Linked DNA regions of Homo sapiens: regions 1 and 2 are each linked to region 3. Evidence: fine-mapped QTL for protein levels in blood plasma. Region 3 holds a variant in brackets. A gene starts in each other region. All regions are shown on their reverse strands.

Region 1 (9,519 bases), not on the chromosome of region 3:
GTGACGTATGTAAATTTCCACGGTCAACAGTTACCCTAAGTGTTAGTGCTTAATCTCAAGAACTCCAGATATCAGGAAAATGTACTCACCCAAAATACTCCCTTGAAATGAGCCACTTCATACCCTACAGCCCCATAGCCCTCCATCCTGCCCTGCACTCAGATCAGCTCAACCCATCGGACAGGTTTAGACTTCAAGTTTAGACTTCAGTTCCCCTCAGCCTCAAACTGTCCCACCTATTTGCAGTCCCCCACACTACAAGGAAGGCTGCACAGCATCAGATTTCCTAGGGACTTCTGGGAGGCCAGAGGGAACTAGAGGAGGCCGCACTAAATAAAGAACTCTCTTAAAGACAAAGCAGCTTCATTACTTTCTAATATAGAAACTAACTGCTGAAGACATGCTTATAAGAAAAGGACCCCGGGCTTTAATGAAGAGATCAGACTCATTTACAATTATCCACATCCAATTTGAAGGTAAATCGTTTTTCTAAATTAAGACAACTAACACCCCCCCACCCGCCACACACACACACACACACACACACACACACACACACACACAAATCTTTTTTGCTTTACTATTTGCTTAATGTTTTCCCTCAGTGATAGATCCCATATCTGAGTCATCTATCACGCTTTTCTCATTAGAGCAGGTTTGGCTTAGAAATAAATCCCCTGCCTTAGGCTGCCAAACCTGCCAATTCGCTAGCTAAACGGTCGCAGGGAGGGCCCTGGGCGCTGGAATTCAATCCCCTCCCTTCTAGTGTGCCCCCACTCGGGGTCCCCACCTCCCTCCACCGTCGCCCGCATCTCCTCTCCATCCCACCTCACCCCCCACCTCCCTGAGGCTTCCCAAGCCCAAACTGCCCATCCCAATTCCCTCCCCACCCCCAACACCTATTCACCCCGTGGCCCCTGCCAGCCGTCTCTACCTGTCCTTCCCGGAATCTGACCCCTCATGCTGCCCACGGCTGCCTGTGGAAGTGCACCAGTCGCCCACACCTTCGCCCTGCTGGGCCCTGCAGAGTGGACACGCCTAACCACTCGCCTTCCCTCCCCGCCGCTCCCCTCCCGGAGCTGGGCGTTTTCCTCTGCAGGACCCGAGACCCCGCTAACCTCCCAGCGCCGGCCGGTGGCTTCGTTAAGCTTCAACACGGGACAGATCTGCCCCCATGCCCGCTCCAGACCCGGGGCCTGCAAAAGCGCATTCACCCACCCGGCCCGGTCCGCAGCTTCCGGGGTCTGCAGGTCCGACGGCGCCCGGGCCCCTCTCAACCCGAGGAAAGGGGGGCGGGGTAGGATCCGGGAGCCCCCAGCTCTCCGCGGGCCCCACAGCCCAGGGCAGGAGGGGCGCCCGCGGTTCCCGGGACTCCTGTGCGAGGGGGGCCGCCCGGACCTGGGGGAGGGCAGGGGAGCAGGAGCCCGGAGGGAAGGCGCCCTGCTCAGCTCCTGCAGCCCTGAGCGGGAACGTGCGGACCTCCGCGGGATCCAGGCCCGGCCCGCAGCAGACAAAGGCCGCCCCACCCCGCGCCGCCCGCGCCACGCCAGCACTCACCGCGCCGCGCCGACTCTGGGACTCAGGGACGCGGCCCAGCCTGGCTCAGTCGCCGCCGCAGCGAGGCCCGGCCCGAATGGGGGCCGGGGGCGGCCCGGGGAGTCCGAGGGGCGGGGCGGGCCGCGCCGGAGAATCCGCCTGAGGCCCGGAAAGGCGGCTCCGGTGCGTCCCTGAGGCCGGATTGGCCCCGCGGTGGCGGCTGCTGACCGAGGCCTGAGCCAGCCCGCTGGGCAGAGCACACGGCCTGGCCCCCGCCCCCGCCCCGCCCCGCCCCCAGGCCTGACCCTGGCGGGGAAAACCCTCGGCTCCCGGAGCAGGGCGCTGCCCATCCCCCACCCCGTTCCCACACTTCCAAGAGCCGAATCTTCCTTTCTGCGAGAGGGGATAGGTGACTGACTGGTCATCGACTGGCGGCAGAACAGGGCTGGAATCCTGCTGTCCAACCCCAGTCTTGGGTTCTTCCTCCACACCATGCTGGCACCACAGCCCAGAAAGGGTTAACTCGACTGCGAGGAATTAAGAGCTGCAAGGAGCTCTCTATAAATACAGTGTCGTGGGCGCCTGAGCCAACCGCAGGACAATTTCCACTGAGCTGGTTTTCCTCTTTTCCTTCCACCCACGGCCATCCGACCAGCCCTGCCCCCAGCCCCACCCCAGACTGCTGGCCGGACTTGGCTCCAACAGGCCTGACACCTAGTGGCCTTGGGCTCTGTCCTTACAGGGCCCCGCTCCAGCCTGGGAGGAGATGGGGGTCGGGCCTGTCCAGATTTTGCTGTGGTGCAGCCCATCCCTGCACCTGTTCTTGGATCTGTTCTTCCTCACAGGGACAGTGACAGCTAAAACGTAGGGAGACTTTTGTGGGCCAGAGTTAGGTTAGGAGCTTTCCATGCTGGGCCTCTTTAGTTCCTCCAAACAGCCCCGCCGGCTAGATATTATTATTCCCATTTCACAGATGAGAAAACCAAGGCTCAAAGGGATGAAGGGACTCCAACCTTGTACTGCTGCCAGGCTCACCACCAGTGCCAGTGGCAGTACTGGGCAGGGCTTGGGAAATGAGTATGAAAACATGTGCGTCTCTCTGCATGTGTTGCCACTGTTGTAAGCTCTTTACCATTTTATCTCATTTAATCTTCACAACAACTCATTGAGGTGAATACCATTATTCTCATTTTTACAGATCGGAAATAAGGAAATTAAGATACAAAGAGATTAAGTAACTTGGGGACACATAGCTATGAAGGGAGGAACCGGGATTTGCCCTCTGAATTTAAGTGTGCGTGTGGTGTATGGGTAGGGGTGGTGGTGCATGGGTGTGTATATTTGTGGGGGGTTTTTGTCTTTTTTTTTTTTTTGAGACAGAGTCTGGCTCTGGAGTGCAGTGGCTCAATCTCGGCTCACTGCAACCTCCGCCTCCTGAGTTCAAGCGATTCTCCTGCCTCAGCCTCCAGAGTAGCTGGGATTACAGGTGCGCACCACTATTTTGGCCAGGATGGTCTCGATCTCTTGACCTTGTGATCCACCCGCCTTGGCCTCCAAAAGGGCTGGGATTACAAACGTGAGCCACCGCGCCCGGCCGGGTGTGTATATTTGTGAACACATTCAAGCAACTCTGTATTTGAGTCTACGTGCATATGTGTCTTTGAATCACACAGCAGCTGTGTCTGTGTAATTGCTGACTGCTCCTAGGGATGACAGCAGAGAGGCCCAGCTGTCTTGTCCCTGACCACCTCCAGGAACTCTGGACCATTCCACGCTGCTCCCCACTGCCCTGCCAGGCCCTGACCAGCCTCGTCCAGCCTGGGTCTGGCCTTACAGGTCTCAGGATGAGTAGCCTCCAGTTGGCCCAGCAACCTGGGGAAGTAGCATCACATGGAGAGGTGTCCTTGGGCTGAGGGAGCTAGGAGCCCTGCTGCAGGACCCTGGAGGTGGCATTGAACAGATCTAGAGAAACTTACTTTCCTTCCCTTCACAAAGAGTCAGTCCTGTGCCTTGTGCCTTGCGGTGGTGACGCTGGTCCTGTCCTAAGGGATTTATAATCTGGCATGACTCAGCCATGGTGGACAGTGAAGGAACATCACAGAGCAGTTTATAGTGTGTCTATGGGGGGAGATTTTAAAATAATCATTCAAGAGCAGAGGTCAGGAGGGAAGGAAATGTGTATTGGCTCTCATTCCTGGAAGCAGCAGATTGAGAGGGCTCTGATCCCCTAGGAGGGGGAAACAGCTTGGGCAGGGCACAGATAGCACATGTGTAGGACCAGCTCATCTGAGACTCAGACACTTGGATCTGGACACAGATAGCTAGAATGACCATCCCATCATGCAGGGGTCTCCTTGGTTCAGAGAATGTTTGCCTGATTGTCCCTGGGAACTCAGGAATGGAGGTGCTACACAGAGATTCCCGTCAGAACCAGAAAAACTCAGGATGGAAGGTTGTCTTCATGCATTCTTTCTGGACAGCAGCCCTACCCCTCTCACCTCTATCCCTCCCACCCCCCACCTCCCCACAACCTGCTTCCTAGGTCAGCACAGTAGTAGATGACTCAGAATGTGCTATCTCCAGTTTTGCTTCAAGTTCCCCAAGGAGGTCACAAACCAATCCCAAAAGACCCAGATTGGGACAAGCCTTATCCCACTTTTTATCTACCTACCATCCTGCAGGTTCCTCAAATTCAACATGTGCAAAATTGAATTATCACATGTCCCCAAAACCTGTTTCCCCTTCTAGATATACAGGAAGGACTATGCTCAAAACCTGGACTCATCCCTCGTTCCCTCCCACTTCCCCCCACTTCCCACTGCCAATATCCAGGCAGGCTTGAAGGGGTGCCCTAGAATATGTTAGGAATCCCTCCCTTTCCTGAATACCCTACTGCCACACCATCCTCATCTGAACCCCCATCACTCCTCACTGGATTGTTGTTGAAGCCTCTTAACTAATTCTGCTGACTGTGACTCCTCAGTCCATAGCTGCCAGAGAGAGCCTTCTAAAGCGCAAATCCTCCCACAATGTCTCTTGCTTACCTGAAGCCCTTCAGTGTTCTCATTTGCCCTTAGGCTGCTAGTTGTCCACTAAAATTAATTCTCTACTTCTTCCTTACCAACAGAGTGTAGCATTTGTTCTAAGAAGTTCTATGCCTAGTTGAAAATACGTGGGTTCTCAGACCCCCTTGCAGCTAGAGGCAGTCACGTGACCCAGTGTGGCAAATGAGATGGAAATGAAACTCACTGATTGAGGCTTTGGGGAAAGCTTGTTAAAGGAGCAGCCTTGAGCTATGGAAACCAGTCTGGTAGTTCCTCAAAAAATTAAAAATAGGCCAGGCAAGGTGGCTCACACCTCTAATCCCAACACTCTGGGAGGCCAAGGCGGGAGGATCACCTGAAGTCAGGAGTTCAAGACCAGCCTGGCCAATATGGTGAAACCCCATCTTTACTAAAAAAATAATAATAATACAAAAATTAGCCAGGCATGGTGGCGCTCACCTGTAGTCCCAGCTACTTGGGAGGCTGAGGTAGAAGAATCACTTGAACCCAGGAGGCGGAGGTTGCAGTGAACTGAGATCATGCCACTGCACTTCAGCATGGGTGACAAAGTGAGACTCTGTCTCAAAAAATAGAAATAAAAATAGAACTACTATATGATTCAGCAATTCCACTTATGGGCATACCTCCAAAGAATTGAAAGCAGGGTCTCAGAGAGATATTTGTACACTCATATTCTTAGTGGCATTACTCACAATAGGCAAAATGTGGAAGCAACGCAAGTGTCTACATCTCCAGATGAATGGATAGGCAAAATGTGGTGTATCCATACAGTAGAACATTATAACTTTCCTCAGGGCAGAAATTATGACTGAAATTAGGAGAAAACTTCCTTTTGCCTCCTTTGACATGCAAAAGGGAAAGTGTCTCTCTCATCTATTTAAATACACTTAGATAATGCAAACTGTACAGTGTAAGCTATGGAGATATTTCTGTCTTTTTAGAGCAGCTAAGCAGTCCATCTCATAGAAAGCGGCTCAGAAACATTGAGATGCCTCTCCTAAGAATGATACTGAAAATGTATTCATTTTGACTGCTTCCATAAGAAACAAAAATCAATTCTTGGCAGTGTCAGGGATTTAAGGCCCAAGTGGCGATTGGGGATTTTATCGAGGATCCCTGCGACACTAAGCCAATACCTTGGCACTGGCCTCCCTTCCCTCAGGCTGGTTGGTGCATATTACTTCCCAAGTTGTTTGCATTTTTAGGCCTCAAATCCTTGATGTCTTGGCAAAAGCCACCCACCCGCACTCCACTCTGCCCACTCACTTAGGACTCATAGGGTGCCATCAGGAACCATTCCATCCAGCCTAGACTTAAGGCAACCACATTTCTCTCAAATGACTGAATCCGGTGTAAAACTGAATATGGTGCATAGCAACCACTGCAGGTTCCGGCTTCCTAGTTTCTTAGTCCTGGGAATTGAGTCTTGGAATAGGCTTCAAATGTCTAGAACCAACTACTGCCAGCTGGAAGCATCTGGCAAGCAAAATAACAGGAGCAGCCTAATGAAAGAGGAGCAGGTCCTCCAGGGAGGATCGCCTGGGAACACTCCGTAACCCTAAGGCCCTAATACACACACAACAACATAACGAAAGAGCTTCTAAGCAGTCTTTTCTAACTAGCTGCTTCTATCTGACTCACCAGCCTCTGCTCTTCTTCCCTGTTCACCCTTTCCATTATCTGTCTTCCTCCCCATCCCCGGTGAAACTGAACCATTCAATCCCCTTTCCCTTTCCAATTTCTTTACTATAATCTTGGCTGACAACACTCCCAATACCGGGAAGCCATTTCAGAGTTTGTGTCCTGCTGCTGGTGAGTCGGAAGGAAGGTGGCAGGTCCTCCAAATAGGAGGGTTGTACAGAGTTTAAAAAACAAAACAACAAAACAACAGAACAAACTAAAAACAGCACCATGCTACCAGGGGAACTCTTCTATCTCATTGGGAGTTGTTTTTTTCTAATAGCTCTCACATGCAAATAATTGAACAGGCTCCACCCTTGCGCTGACCTGAAAGTGAGCACCTCCTTCAGTTTTGCATCATAGGTGCAGGTACCTCATGCTCGTCCTGGCCCTGCTCCTAGGCTTGCCCCAAGACAGGCTCAGAGAAGCAGGCACTGACCAGAACAACTAAGGGTTCCTGCTAGATGAATAAGATCGAGTGCCCCTGGCTTGGAGAACAAGGGGCCCTGCCTCACAAGCCAGTGGTGATGGCCCTCTTAAGGAAGATAGTGGATAAACCATATGGAATCCAGAAATCTGAATTTCAATCCAGGAGTTTAATCCTTTTTTATTTTATTTTTATTTTTTAAGAGACGGGATCTTGTTCTGTCACTCAGGCTAGAGTGCCGTAGTGCAATTGTAGCTCACTGTAGCCTTGAATTCACCCCTGGGCACAAGAAATCCTCCTTCCTCAGCCTCCCTAGTAGCTAGGACTACAGGAGTAAGCCAGGTGCTGAATCTTAAGTGCAAATATTGCTGTTTTCAGAGTCACAGGGTCTCTTTGTGGTATTCGTTTTCAGCTGGGTTTGTGACATTATGCCTAGGCATCTTCAGGGCACCTTACCAAAGGGACTCAAGGGAAGGTTTAACTGCCCCAGTGGTGAGAACAGTTTATCTAATCTTCCTTAATGGAGCACTCTTAACCTGCAGTTCTTCATGTCAACCCTAATCCCTGAGGCAGGACAACTGACTGCAAATCCCTGCCCTTTCTCTCTCCCTGGCTTCTCTCAGTCCACTCCCCCTCTTCTCCTGGAGATAGGCATTTTGCAGTGAAAGTGACCCTTCTTGGGAACATGTCTTGGCTGCTGCTAGGTCTCCACTTGGGTTACTGGTGCTAGGGAAGAACCCAGTTCGAGACAATCCAGGCCACGAAGCAGGATGTGTGAATCGCAACATCCTCAGTCAGTGACCAAGGCTCAGTTCTCTTGCAGTTTCCTTCCCACCCTGCTTCTGCCACCAGACATGGGGCTTCCTGCCCACTGGCCTACCTCTCCCAAGGTTACTACATGAAGTATGGGGTATTATATCTTATTAGCTTAACTGCTTCTTCCATTATTGTGGTTAGCAGTTGCTCATGAATACAACCTTGCGTTTGTTTTCTTAAAACAGGACTTTCAGCTAAATGACATGTGTGGCTCCTGTTCCTTCCTCAGTTTTCTTGATGAGACCATCACAAACATAACTTCAAAAGAAATCCTTTATAAGCAGACTTTCTGCAGGAACCTGGCACCTTCACAGGCAAACAGGGATGGGCTCTGGGTTTCCAAACAGGAACTTGAGCAGCAGCACTGATGCCGTCCACTCAGGGAGATGTGCAGCCAGATGTGTGGCTTCTGAGGAGTGACTCCAGCTGGAGTTTCTCCCCTCACCCTAGTAGTTCCTTGACCAGCCCTTCATTATTCTTTAGGGTCAGCATTGCTGTCAAAATGTGGCCCGTCTCCATCACCCTCCACCCCTCCATAAATATTCATGTAGTCCAGTTCCTCCCAGCTTAAGAGGAGGGAGTCTATCAGAGGTTGTCCTCTCAAACTGGACCAATCCACTTACTTCCCTAAGCCTCCTCCAAGGAGCAGGTGCCAGCTTCAGCCTTGGTCTGTTCTGATGTGTGCTGCCCACAGTGTTCTCCACTTGGCCCAAGCCACATGTCATATCTCCCCAGGCACTTTGAGGGCTCCCTTAGGGCAGGAACTCTGGCTCATTCTCCTCCAGGCTCCTCACTCATGCTCCCTCACTCCCACCTGGGATGCTATAGCTGAATGAAGGCTTGAACTCTGGAGTGAATGCTTGACCCTGGCTGGCGGGAAGGGGCATTGACAGTACAGCAGGCTGAAAACCAGGACACCAGGACTCACCTCTCATCCCTGCCACAAACTAACCATGTGGCGGGAGGAGGTAGCTTAACCGTTCTGGGCCTTTTCCTCTCAGAGTCCTCCTAAAGCTCCTCTGCAGCCCTGAGCCACCATTTCTCACTGAGAGCATCAGAATTTCCTCCTCGGCCCTGCAGCAGACAGGACTAATGAAGCAGGCTAGCGCCATGGACAAGCGGCCTGCAGAGCCAGAAAGGAACTAACAGTCTCCAACTTCCCTACTCCTTTTCCAAGTTCTTTCCATCATGGTTGACATAGGCACTTGCTACTCTGAGCCACCTCCTGGTGATAAGTGGAAATGCAGCTGAAATGGGCTCCTGTCCTCACCTGTCCTAGGTCTCCAAGGATGCTCCTCAATGCCCAGCTTGAAGAAGGAAATGGGATGGAAGGAGAGGGGAAAGCTGTGTGGACTGAGGCTGTGGAGGTCAGGGAAGGGTTCGCAGAGGAGCTGGGTTATAGCTGACCTTGAAGGATGGGAAGAACTCAATAAGTGAAAGGCATCAGGGACCTGCCCAGGTCTGACCTTCTCTAAGACAACACACACTTGGGAAGACATCGATCTAATTACCCTGGTAGTGCTGCTTGCAGAGTCTGGCACCAGGAAATGGGTCAAGTGCAGGGGGCAGAAGGGGAAGGCCACCTCAAGAAGAGCAGGTCTGGGAGCAGAGAAAAGAGCACCTGGGCCACACCCTCTGCCTTCCCTCCTTGTGCTACCATTCAGGTCAGCCCTCCTTTTGCGCAACTTGCCTACTCAAGGACATCACGCCAGAAATTCTCCTCTCCTGCATCATCAATCTTTTCACTGTCTCCAAATCATTCACTACCTTTCTTGAAACACTTTCTGCCTCTAGAACAGAAAGTTCTTGCTTTTCTTCTCACCTTGCTGGTTGTTCCTTCTAGTCTCCTATGCTGGATCCTTCTCCTCTCCCCAACCCCTTAATGTACAGGAACTCCAGGACTTAGTACTCACACTCTTTTCTTCTGGGTCTAGACCCATTCCCTCGGTCATCTCATCCAGTCTGACGGCTTTAATACTATCTATGTGCTGAGAA
Region 2 (5,000 bases), not on the chromosome of region 3:
GCCTCAGCTACTCGGGAGTCTGAGGCAGGAGAATCACTTGAACCCAGGAGGCGGAGGTTGCAGTGAGCTGAGATCGCGCCACTGCACTCCAGCCTGGGCGACAAAGCAAGACTCTGCCTCAAAAAAAAAAAAAAAAAAAGGCAATAATCAGGCTCTTTCCTTTTTAAGGGAAAACATACAATAATAAACTTTTCTTACTGAGTTATGAGGATAAAATAAGATATAAGAAGCAAAGTAACTTTATAAACAGAAATGAGTCTTATTCTGTTATGCTCACTGGCTGAACAGAGCAGCATTAAAATTCACATTCAACAACCCTCGGAGTTTTGCCTGCATTACCATATACTTTAAAGTAAAATTGAGGCTCGGTGCTAGCTCTCAAATGCATCACTTTATGTCCATATTTTCCCAAAGTGTGAAACATGCCAGTGTGGTACCTACAAAATATTAAGTGGCTTATGGATATGCAGCAAATAACCCCATGTAGTAAGGGGTACTCTTTCAAAATCTCTTGCAATCTCTTTCATTAAGGAAGATAACTCCATTTACAGCTGGTATAGCCTTAACACTTTCCCAACACTTGCTAATTTCCCCTTTGTAACAGAAAGACAGTATTTAATACAATTTCATAACTTTTTAATTTGTTTGTTTTTTTTTAATGATTACTCACCCATTTGTGGCAAGTGGCACTGGCTTCCCATTCACCATAAGGATTTTGTTTCAAGGAAATTAATTTAATTTTTAAATGGGACATAGCTATACAAAAAAACACATCTAGTAATCAAAAGTTCAAGCAGTACTGCCATTAGGCAAAAATCCCGAAAGTGGTACACGGTAATTTAACGTTGAGAAAACGACTTCATGAAATTTCTTTTTTTTTTTTTTTTTTGCGCGGGGGAGACAAAGTCTCGCTCTGACGCCCAGGTTGCAGTGCAGTGGTGCAATCTCGCCTCAAAGCAATCTCTGCCTCCCGGGTTCAAGCGATTCTCCTGTCTCAGCCTCCTGAGTAGCTGGGATTACAGGCACCTGCCATCACGCCTGGCAAATTTTTGTATTTTTAGTAGAGGCGGGGTTTCACCATGTTGGCCAGGCTGGTCTCAAACTCCTGACCTCAGGGGATCCTCCAGCCTCGGCCTCCCAAAGTGCTGAGATTATAGGCCGGAGCCACCGCGCCCGGGCTCATGACAATTTTCTAAGGCAGCACAGATGAAACAAGGAAAGCAGGAACCAGGGTCCAAAACCATGTCTCTCTACTCTAAATTCGATGCTCCTTCCACTACACTGATGGCTTTCACAGTTTACAGTGCATGCAAATCACCTAAAGGTCCTGTTCACAGATCACAGATACCGACCAAGTAGGTCGGGGTGGGGCCCGAGAATCTGTATTTCTAGCGAGCGCCCAGAAGTAGCGGAGGCTGCTGGTCGTCGGGCTACCCTTTGCCTGGCAAGGCCCTGGGCAAAGACTACAAAGAGAGAGACTCCCGGAGACGCTGAATTTTCAGTGTCGCCAACTGTCCTCGACTCGGAACGCTGGCCGCACCTGCCGTGACATCACTGCACAGGGGTGCAATTGCGTCACTCCCCAGGCGTCACTGCCGAAACAACCCCTGTCCTCCTGTCACTCTCGCCGCTAACTACAGACCCCGCCCCGCCCGCCAGCGCCCCGGAGGCCGAAGTCACGCAGTCGCGCTCCGTCGCAGGCCTGTGACGTTACGAACCTCTCCCCCGTGACCTCTTCGACCCAAACCTCAAGCGAAAATTCCCTAGCTCGCTAGACCGGCGCAGGACTGTGACTGCGCGCCTCCTTTTACCTGAGAGGGACCGCCGGGCCCCCGGGCGCAGCCGCCAAAGGCGGGGAGCCGCCGCCGCCCCGGCGCAACTCATTGCCGGAACTAAAAAAAGCAACCACTTCGTTGAACGGAACTGGCCAATAGTGCCCTTGGCTCGGACTGATGACGCACAGCAGACGTAAGGAAGGCTCAGCTCGCCCGCGCACCGGTGGGAACGCCCCCTAGCTCTGCGCTAGGGGTTAGATTGGTTAGATACGACAAATAAAAAGATTTTATTGGGTGGGGTCACTGTCAATCACTCGGAAGACCAAGGCCAAGGCGCCTTGGGTTGCCAGGGAGATGAAAATGCTAAATTGCTGTTTAGAAAGATCAGGACAAGGTTATGATTTCTCACCCAAGTTCCTGGGGAAAAGGATCATGAGGGAATTACTTATTAACAAGGCACGGTATTTCCTGCTTTACCTACGTGGAAGGAGATTTTTTTTTTTATTTGTATCCTACATCTACTTTAAAATAGTAAGCCTGGGCAACATAGCGAGACCCCGCCTCTACAAATAATTTTAAAAATTAGCCGGGTCTGGTGGAGCACACCTGTAGTCCCAGCTACTCGGGAGGCTGAGGTGGGGGGATAGCTTGAGCCCGGTAGCTCGAGGCTGCAGTCAGCCGTGATTCTGCCACTGCACTCTAGCCTGGGCCCTGTCTGAAAAATAAATAAATAAATAAAATTATATGTATATCTAAATTACATGCACCACATGGTTAATGGTGTTATATAGTGTTATCTCTATTGGTGGGCTGAAAGCCAACTTTAAACTTCTTCCCGGTCTTTTCTCTATTTTCAGAAACAGAGAACATGTTTTATCCTTGGTATCCACCTTAATGTACTGTGTGCATGTATGCATGTATATTTGTGCAAATTGGAATTTTTTGAGAAGGGAGGGGAAATTTAGCAACATACTTTAAAAAGATCATATAATACAGCAGTCTTACTTTTAGGAATCTACTCAACGAAATAATTTTTAAATGAGTAATGTACATGAGGGCAAAAATCAAAGATGCGTGTCTGCAAGGATATACAACGTTTAATATTGGCAACATCAGGGGGCTGGAACTGGGAGAAGGGAGCTTTCACTTTCTACTTTACACCCTTGGATTATTTATATACTTTATCCAAGTTTACCATAAAATATTTTAAGATGGAATACAATTGTAAAATTATTGAATTCAAGTTTTTAGTTTTTATATCACTCTAGTGTTCAAATTGACACACCAAAATAATTTAAAATTATGATGAACCCAAATACTACTTAGTGAGGATGTTGTAGCACTCTCATGTAAAACTACTGAGTGTCTGAATCTGGCGCTCAAAAGCCTTAAAATGTTCAAAACCTTTGCTGTAATACCACTTCTAGGTCTCTGTTTCCTTTTTGTTTTGTTTTTTGTTTTTGTTCTTTTTAAATGGAGTTTCACTCTGTCGCACAGGCTGGATTGCAGTGGGGAGACCTTGGCTCACTGGAACCTCTGCCTCCCGGGTTCAAGCGATTCTCCTGCCTCAGCCTCCCAAGTAGATGGGATTACAGGTACACACACCACCACGCCCAGCTGAGACTGGGTTTCGCTGTGTTGGCCAGGCTGGTCTCAAATTCCTGACCTCAAGTGATCCTCCCACCTTGTCCTCCCAAAGTGCTGGGATTATAGGCGTGAGCCGCCACGCCTGGCCTAGGTCTCTGTTTCTAAGGAGAAAAAATGTTGACAAAGATTTATAGATGTGCCCATTATTTATTACTGGGAAAATTTGGAAACAAAATGTTAAGCAACAATTGAATATCAAAACATCATGTCCGAGTGCAGTGGCTCACGCCTGTAATCCCAACACTTTGGGAGACTGAGGCGAGAGGATCACTTGAGCCCAGGAGTTCAAGACCAGCCTGGGCAACACAGTGAGATTCCATCTCTACAAAAAATTTTAAAAATTAGTCAGGCATGGTGGTGTGTGCCTCTGATCCCACCTACTTGTGAGGCTAAAAGGATCACTTGAGCCCAGGAGGTTGAGGCTGCACTGAGCCATGATCACACCACTGCACTCCAGAGTGGGTGATAGACCTAGACTCTGGCTCAAAAAAAAAAAAAAAAATCCAACTGTATGATGTTATGTAGCCCATTGAAATGTTTGTAAAGAGCTTTTAATAACAGGAGAAAACACTAGATTCTTCAGGAAAACACATATTAAGTGAAAAAGAAATTAGAATACCAAAGTTCTTTCCTTCTTTTTCCTTCTTTTTCCCTCCCTCTGTACTTTCTATCTTAAAAAGAATTTTGCCAGGATTAACAGTGCGTGCCCATAAGTGCTGCTTTTTAAGTTTTTTTCTCTGTTGCTTTTGATGTTCTCTGTATTTGCTATAAAAAACAAGTATTTTTATAATGGCAAAACAAAATTTAAAAAACAAAAATGCATACTATTCCCTAATTCCATCCCCCTACCCACCAAATTATCCATTAAAAAAACTAGTTCCAGCCAGGCACGGAGGCTCACCCCTGTAATCCCAGACTTTGGGAGGCCGAAGTGGAAGGATCACTTGAGGTCAGCAGTTCAAGACCAGCCTGACCAACAGGGCAAAACCCCATCTCTACTAAAAGTACAAAAATTAGCTGGGCATGGTGGCACACACCTGTAGTCCCAGCTACTTGGGAGGCTGAGGCAGGAGAATCACTTGAACCCAGGTTGCAGTGAGCCGAGATCGCACTACTGCACTCCAGCCTGGGCAATAGAGTGAGACTACATCTCAAAAAAAAAAAAAAAAAAAAACACAGCCAGGCACAGTGGCTCACGCCTGTAATCCCAGCACTTTGGGAGGCCGAGGCGGGCAGATCATGAGGTCAGGAGATCAAGACCATCCTGATGAAACCCTGTCTCTATTAAAAATACAAAAAATTAGCCGGGTGTGGTGGTGGGCGCCTGTAGTCCCAGCTACTCGGGAGGCTGAGGCAGGAGAATGGTGAACCCGGGAGGCAGAGCTTGCAGTGAGCCGAGATCGCACTACTGCACTCCAGCCTGGGCAATAGAGACTACATATTAAAAAAAAAAAAAAAAAAAAAACACGGCCGGGCACGGTGGCTCACGCCTGTAATCCCAGCACTTTGGGAGGCCGAGGCAGGCAGACCACCTGAGGTCGGGAGTTTGAGACCAGCCTGACCAACATGGAGAAACCC
Region 3 (6,759 bases):
AGGTCTAATCTAACTCCCTTTCACCTGCAGCGTAAGCTCCTTTTGTATTGAGAGGTTTTAGTTTCTGTCTTTATCCTTCCATGTCCCTCTTCCCTGTGATCTTAGCATCACCCTACCCTAATTTGCTGCACTACCCATCCACTTATGCAAGATGTTTTTTGAAAGTCATTGAGGGGATCCATGTAAATATCTGTTCTTTAGGCAGGCAAGTGGTATTACATGCATTACTTTCATTGTCTCCACTTCCCTCCAAATTTTGCCTCAGAGATAGGTTTTATTTTATATCAGCTCCTTACTAAAAGGGGCCTTAGCAATAGAGCTTAGAAAAAGGTCTTGGGGGCTCTCTCCCTTTCGTATTTTTACTTTCTTGTCTCAAGAATTAATTTCATTATGGATTCATTTCAGTCTGTGATCCACTGTGAGCCCTTGATCCTTGACCATTGAGGGAAACTAGATACAGGTCAATTCTACCATCACTAGATTAGTCCAGTGTAAGAGGTAGACAATTCATGTTGAATTTTCTGGAATTACTGCAGGGGAGACCTTGATTCCTAGGAGGGAACTAAAGGGATCATCAAAGCTAAGGGTGGAGCCAAGCAAGTGGGGAGACCATAAGTGAAAAGGGGAGAGTTTGGAGCCTGATCCTACCCTATGCTGATGTCTCTTCTTATGTCTATTTCACCAGGAGACTCTCTGGGGGCCAGGCCTGGGCTTCCCTATGGGCTGAGCGACGATGAGTCTGGGGGCGGCCGGGCACTAAGTGCGGAGAGTGAAGTTGAGGAGCCAGCCAGGGGTCCAGGGGAGGCCAGGGGTGAGAGGCCAGGCCCAGCCTGCCAGCTGTGTGGGGGGCCGACAGGTGAGGGGCCGTGTTGTGGGGCAGGAGGGCCGGGTGGGGGGCCCCTGCTGCCCCCACGGCTACTGTACTCATGCCGCCTCTGCACCTTCGTGTCCCACTACTCGAGCCACCTGAAGCGGCACATGCAGACACACAGCGGAGAGAAGCCGTTCCGCTGTGGCCGCTGCCCCTACGCCTCAGCCCAGCTCGTCAACCTGACACGACATACCCGCACCCACACTGGCGAGAAGCCCTACCGCTGTCCCCACTGCCCCTTTGCCTGCAGCAGCCTGGGCAACCTGAGGCGGCATCAGCGTACCCACGCAGGGCCCCCCACTCCTCCCTGCCCGACCTGTGGCTTCCGCTGCTGTACTCCACGACCAGCCCGGCCTCCCAGTCCCACAGAGCAGGAGGGGGCGGTGCCCCGGCGACCTGAAGGTAAGACACACCAGGGACCAAAGATCTTGGGACATGGGTGGCTGACCCTAGGAATGCTTGGATTGGATTCATAGCCCAGGTCTTTGTCCCCACAGATGCTCTGCTCCTTCCAGATTTGAGCCTCCATGTGCCACCAGGTGGTGCCAGTTTCCTGCCAGACTGTGGGCAGCTGCGGGGTGAAGGGGAGGGCCTCTGCGGGACTGGATCAGAACCACTGCCAGAGCTGCTATTCCCTTGGACCTGCCGGGGCTGTGGACAAGAGCTGGAGGAGGGTGAGGGTAGTCGGCTGGGAGCTGCCATGTGTGGGCGCTGCATGCGAGGAGAGGCTGGAGGGGGTGCCAGTGGGGGGCCCCAGGGCCCCAGTGACAAAGGCTTTGCCTGTAGCCTCTGCCCCTTTGCCACTCACTATCCCAACCACCTGGCCCGGCACATGAAGACACACAGTGGTGAGAAGCCCTTCCGCTGCGCCCGCTGTCCTTATGCCTCTGCTCATCTGGATAACCTGAAACGGCACCAGCGCGTCCATACAGGAGAGAAGCCCTACAAGTGCCCCCTCTGCCCTTATGCCTGTGGCAATCTGGCCAACCTCAAGCGTCATGGTCGCATCCACTCTGGTGACAAACCTTTTCGGTGTAGCCTTTGCAACTACAGCTGCAACCAGAGCATGAACCTCAAACGTCACATGCTGCGGCACACAGGCGAGAAGCCCTTCCGCTGTGCCACCTGCGCCTATACCACGGGCCACTGGGACAACTACAAGCGCCACCAGAAGGTGCATGGCCACGGTGGGGCAGGAGGGCCTGGTCTCTCTGCCTCTGAGGGCTGGGCCCCACCTCATAGCCCACCCTCTGTTTTGAGCTCTCGGGGCCCACCAGCCCTGGGGACTGCTGGCAGCCGGGCTGTCCACACAGACTCATCCTGAACTAGGTCCTTCTTCCCCATGTTTTATACAGACGGACCAGAAGCCACCTTTTTCTCCCCCGCTGGCCAGGGGCTCCACACAGACTAACGTAGGCACTATAAGGACCAGCCCAACCCCATGGGCGGGGGGGCCCATATGGACCAGGGGACCTTGCCTTGACTGAGGCACTTCACGAGCTCAGTGAGAAGGGCCCTGTATTCACCTCCACTGCCCCCAGGGGCTGTGGACAAACCGGCTGGGGGACTGCCCAGCCTCCCACCTGTTTATTTAACTTATTTCAGTGCTTTATAATAAAGGAAACACTAACAAAGCCATGTCTATGCTGAATTGGCAATGGCAGGCAATTTGGCCTTACCCTTAGCATAGTAGTCCATGCTGTGATGGGGGAAGCAGGGGCAGTGAGAGGGAACCAGAGGTAGGCAGCAGTCAGGCTGAGTTTAATGATGGGGAACTGGGCCAGACCAAACACAGACCTCTGCCCATCCCCTTGGCCTTTGGCCCATGGCTCCAAGAGGCCAGAAGCGGCCCAGAGGGAGATATGGTTCCTCCCCAAGGCAGGCAGCCATGGTCCCTTAGACTTTGTGCAAAATACTAAATGCTAATTTGGCATCGAGGGCCAGCTCTGAAAAGAGAAGGGGCAATCCTCTGTGCAGCCAGCCCAGGGGACAAGGAAAGGTAGGATACGAGGCCCCTGGCCAAGAGAAAAGGGGTAGGTAGGAAAGAAGAAGGAAAAGACCCCTCCGCCCCTAGCATGGGGGACACAGGCACAGGGCAAGTTTCTGTAAATTCCTCTGGGGTAGAGGGCAGACATCCAAGCAGTGGAGATTACAGATCCTCATCTCCAATGCCCTCGAAGGCGAAATTGCCGTGGACATCACTGGCACTGGCATCTGTGCTGGGACTGCCAATTCCCCGCAAGCTCACGGCACTCAGCTTACTCTGTAACAAAGGCAGGGTGGGGTCAGAGATCTTGGGCGTGCAAGATCCCCCAACAAACAGCAACCTCACCAACGCTGGAACTCACTGAGAGTTTGACCATAGACTCCCGGGTGGCATCAGGTGACTCCTGGGGAAGAAGAGGCAGAGGTGTCAGAAACTCACTAGGAGAGGTGAGGCAGGGCTGAGAGCCAGGGTTCTGACCAGGAGGTAATACTTACAAGCAGTGGTGGGGACTTCACTGCTTGCTGGCTGTCTGAGCGTCTCAGAGTACCCCCCACCCGCCGGCGCAGCATCTGGGGACAGACACAAGGTGCCGGTGAGGGCAGGATCACTTCCCCTCCCTCTCAAGACAAGCCTCACATCTAGGACAAAAGGCAAGGGGAGCACACCTGCTCACTGCTCAGTCCACACTTGCTGCCTACCTTCCTGATACTGCCGCCAGATTTCTTCACCATCAGTTCATCAACCATGGACTGCAAGCAGATGCTCATCATGATAGCCTGAGGGCAAGAAGAGTGTCCAGCTTGATGAGAGTGGTCACTCTGAGCCCAGCACCACTAATGCCTCCCATATTGAGTACTGGAAACTCTACACTTTAAGGTGCTCCAGAGGAGGGCTGAGGGTAGGTTCACACCTGGGGGCTAGTGATGGTGACCCACTGTAGCCGGTCCTTGCTCATGAGGTATTCAAAAGCCAGTTCCAGGCGCACCTCACCCCGGCCCCGGCCTGGGCTGCTCGTGCTTCCACTGGGCAATGGTACCTGGGAGAGGAAGGGGAATTCGGTTGAGTTCACTCTGACCAACCTGTCTGGCTCCCTGACCCGCTGCAGCCCATACCTAAGCTCAAGGCTTGCCGGGCCCCCAACCCAGGCCCTTCCCCCTCCTAACCCGACTCACAGAGGAGGTGACCCGCCAGCATCGCATGCGGGTGACCCGGAAGGAGCCTTCTCGGAGTTGCTGGCCAGGCAGGCGGAGCTGCAGGCTGAGCTCACTGTTGCCCGCGCTCACCACCACAGGACAGTCCTTTTCTGGGAAGTCAGCCACACAGGCATCAAAGCGCAAGTAGCCATAGTGCCGCAGCGTCTGGGCCAGTCTCAGGAACTGAAAAATGGTCATCACATGGGGGTAGATTAGGAGGGAGAATGGGGCAGCTCAGAAAAAGCAACCCCGGTCGGGCGCGGTGGCTCATGCCTATAATCCCAGCACTTTAGGAGGCAGAGGCAGACAGATCACAAGGTCAGGAGCTCAAGACCATCCTGGCTAACATGGTGAAACCCTGTCTCTCCCAAAAATACAAAAAATTAGCCGGGCGTCGTGGCGGGTGCCTGTAGTCCCAGCTACTCGGGAGGCTGAGGCGGGAGAATGGCATGAATCTG[A/G]GAGGCAGAGCTTGCAGTGAGCCAAGATCGCGCCACTGCAAGCCCTTAGAGGAAGACAGAGAGGAGGCAGGGCTCACCTCCTTCTTGGAGACTTTCTCTTGCAGAGATTTGAGTTGCCGGTGCTGTTCCTTGGTGACCAAGATCCACCCACGCTCAATATCTGATACCGTCTATAGTAGAGACAAGGGGCAGGCAGTAGGAGGTCCCAGTCAGCAATCCAAGGAAAGCGTCTACCATTACCTCTGTCCAGCCTGACCCCTAGCCCCACACTTGAGCGACCTCTCTGCAGTAAGTCCTTGATCTTGTCAGCTTAATAAAAGTAGGGAGAGTAGATATTGTGCCAGCAGCACTGATAGTATTCTAGGAACTTCCCCACAAATTGGGAACAAAGACACGACAGCAGTTTTCTTGGGAGAGTGAGTCACCCGTTATTTTCTTCAGGGGAAGGGTTCTGAGGCAGCTCCAAGCTCACCTGAGCATAAAGCAGGTTCAGGCCAACCCGGTTCTCCATGACATCGTCATCATAGGCAGAGTCCCAATAACTGTGAGGCCAAGGGGTGGAAAGGGGTAATGGGGCTAAGCTGGGTTAAGGCAAGAGGTAGAATGGAAAATGGGCAAAACAGGAGCAATCTGGAACTATCAGGGGCTAATGGTATAGTGGGAGGAAGCTTGGGAGGCCTGGCAGAAACACCCAGCACTACACCCCCTTGTCCAGATTATTCTGTCTCAATATGTGGCCCAATAATCCAATCCAGCACAGCACCTCCCACCCCTCCCCTTCCAGGCCCAGCCCTGACCTCTTCCTTAGCACAATCTTATACTCTTGACTCCGAAGGCTGGTGACAGACACATAAGGCAGCTCAAACTCTTGCAACTTCCGTACAACTACAGGTTAAAAAAAAAAAAATGAAAATATAGTGAGATTTAAAGGAAGGGAAATCAAGAAAGAAGTGCCCTGAGGCAATGTTCATTCTGGGGGTGGGGGTGGGGAGTTAGGGGGGCTGCAAACTCTACTGAAGTACCCTTGTACTGCAGTCAAGTCCAGAGAAACTCACAAGAAAAGGCTCCATCCTCTTTTTCTCGAACTAAGAATAGACTAAAGTATCCAATCAAGTCATCTGGAAGATCCAGCTTTGCAGCTACAGCCTGGGGATAGGGATAGAAGTACAGCTCATCATACTGGCTGGTTCCAATCATTCTCCAAGCCCAGGACCCCAGGATGTAGGGGAAGAAGGGGCAGTGCTGAACAAGCGCCTCACCTCCAGGACATCCTCAGTCTGATCTGAAGTTAGCACGTTGACCAGAACTTTCTGCCCGTTGCTGAGCAGCACTTCCAAGGACACTTCCTCTGTGGGGACCTGCTGTGTCTCCTGTTGTGAGCACACATGGGGATGGGAAGCACTGCCTTGTCCCTTGCCTTGACCTATGCCCAACTCTATTTCTAGGTCCCTTGTGTGTCTTTATTCTCAGCTGCTTAAATATAGGCTGTGATTTCTTTGATTTCATAAGAATAGAAGTTCCATTCCATTAAAAAAGATGACTCCTCTGTTATTAAGATGACATGGCCTGGCTGGGTGTGGTGGCTCACACCCGTAATCCCAGCACTTTGGGAGGCCAAGGCGGGTGGATCACCTGAGGTCAGGAGTTCGAGACCAGCCAGGCCAACACGGCAAAACCCCGTCTCCACTAAAAATACAAAAATGAGCCGGACATGGTGGCAGGCGCCTGTAATTCTAGCTACTTGGGAGGCTGAGGCAGGAGAATCGCTTGAATCCGGGAGGCGGAGATTGCAGTGAGCTGAGATCGCACCACTGCACTCCAGCCTGTGCAAAAGAGCAAGACTCTGTCTCAAAAAAATAAAAGACATGACCTTCCAGCAAGGTCCTTTCCTTAAATCTTGGTCCCACCCAAAGCCCTACCTGTTGTGCCCGACGCAGGAAACTGTTGAAAGTCTCGCTGCTCCCAAGCAATGGGTCTTGCCGAACTACGAGGACAAGAGAACATTATTACAGGAACTTAGCACTCACTCTTGGCTCCCCAGTCCTCCTCTCAGTAGGTTCCCCCGACCCCATTTCCTGGGCTGATGGTGGCCTGCCACATCCCCCAGCTGGCCTCACCTCACTCACTGTTTGCATAAATTCTTCACCTGCCCCACCCTTGGCTGCCATCTAGGTGAGTCCAGTCTATAGAACTAGGGAAATAACAATGATGTTAATCTAAAGCACATCAGATACAAATTAAGTTCTCTCC

Which allele goes with the higher level. Positions count from the first base shown, and alleles are read on the strand shown. Strength reflects both the effect of a copy and how common the allele is.
In carriers of allele G in region 3, the plasma level of the protein whose gene starts at base 1,635 in region 1 tends to be higher than with A alone (weak association).
With allele G in place of A in region 3, the plasma level of the protein whose gene starts at base 1,935 in region 2 is lower (weak association).

The links. A credible set is the group of variants that fine-mapping cannot tell apart. PIP is the chance, under the fine-mapping model, that this variant and not a neighbour inherited with it causes the effect. Protein levels are from antibody-based Olink assays in UK Biobank. Linkage for the fine-mapping came from a reference panel and not from the study's own genotypes, which makes the PIPs less certain.
Region 1: it holds the start of CD276, and the variant in region 3 is the best candidate, but not a certain one, in a credible set for the plasma level of the CD276 protein (UK Biobank, PIP 0.53).
Region 2: COQ7 starts here. The variant in region 3 is the best candidate, but not a certain one, in a credible set for the plasma level of the COQ7 protein (UK Biobank, PIP 0.56).

What each region holds. Positions count from the first base shown.
Region 1 is chr15:73,676,499-73,686,017 of GRCh38, reverse strand. CD276 (CD276 molecule) reads right to left here and starts at 1,635. Exons shown (of 10, transcript NM_001024736.2): 1 at 1,558-1,635. RefSeq lists enhancers at 714-1,220, 2,238-2,746 and silencers at 1,205-1,254, 1,415-1,544, 1,555-1,684, 1,805-1,854.
Region 2 is chr16:19,064,549-19,069,548 of GRCh38, reverse strand. COQ7 (coenzyme Q7, hydroxylase) reads right to left here and starts at 1,935. Exons shown (of 6, transcript NM_016138.5): 1 at 1,812-1,935. The coding sequence starts at 1,884. It overlaps COQ7-DT (COQ7 divergent transcript), which reads left to right and starts at 1,858. Exons shown (of 3, transcript NR_119381.1): 1 at 1,858-1,968. RefSeq lists an enhancer at 1,572-1,721 and a silencer at 1,752-1,911.
Region 3 is chr2:27,372,981-27,379,739 of GRCh38, reverse strand. SNX17 (sorting nexin 17) reads right to left here. Exons shown (of 15, transcript NM_014748.4): 4 at 6,429-6,493; 5 at 5,769-5,879; 6 at 5,565-5,655; 7 at 5,307-5,394; 8 at 4,982-5,051; 9 at 4,587-4,679; 10 at 4,031-4,234; 11 at 3,769-3,894; 12 at 3,557-3,634; 13 at 3,353-3,427; 14 at 3,220-3,261; 15 at 2,205-3,134. The coding sequence ends at 3,021. ZNF513 (zinc finger protein 513) reads left to right here. Exons shown (of 4, transcript NM_144631.6): 3 at 686-1,273; 4 at 1,369-2,505. The coding sequence ends at 2,195. Among named protein-coding and RNA genes, the nearest start is that of ZNF513, 4.4 kb to the left of the region's middle. RefSeq lists enhancers at 394-1,264, 1,879-2,038. The variant A/G (reference allele first, on the strand shown) is at 4,510.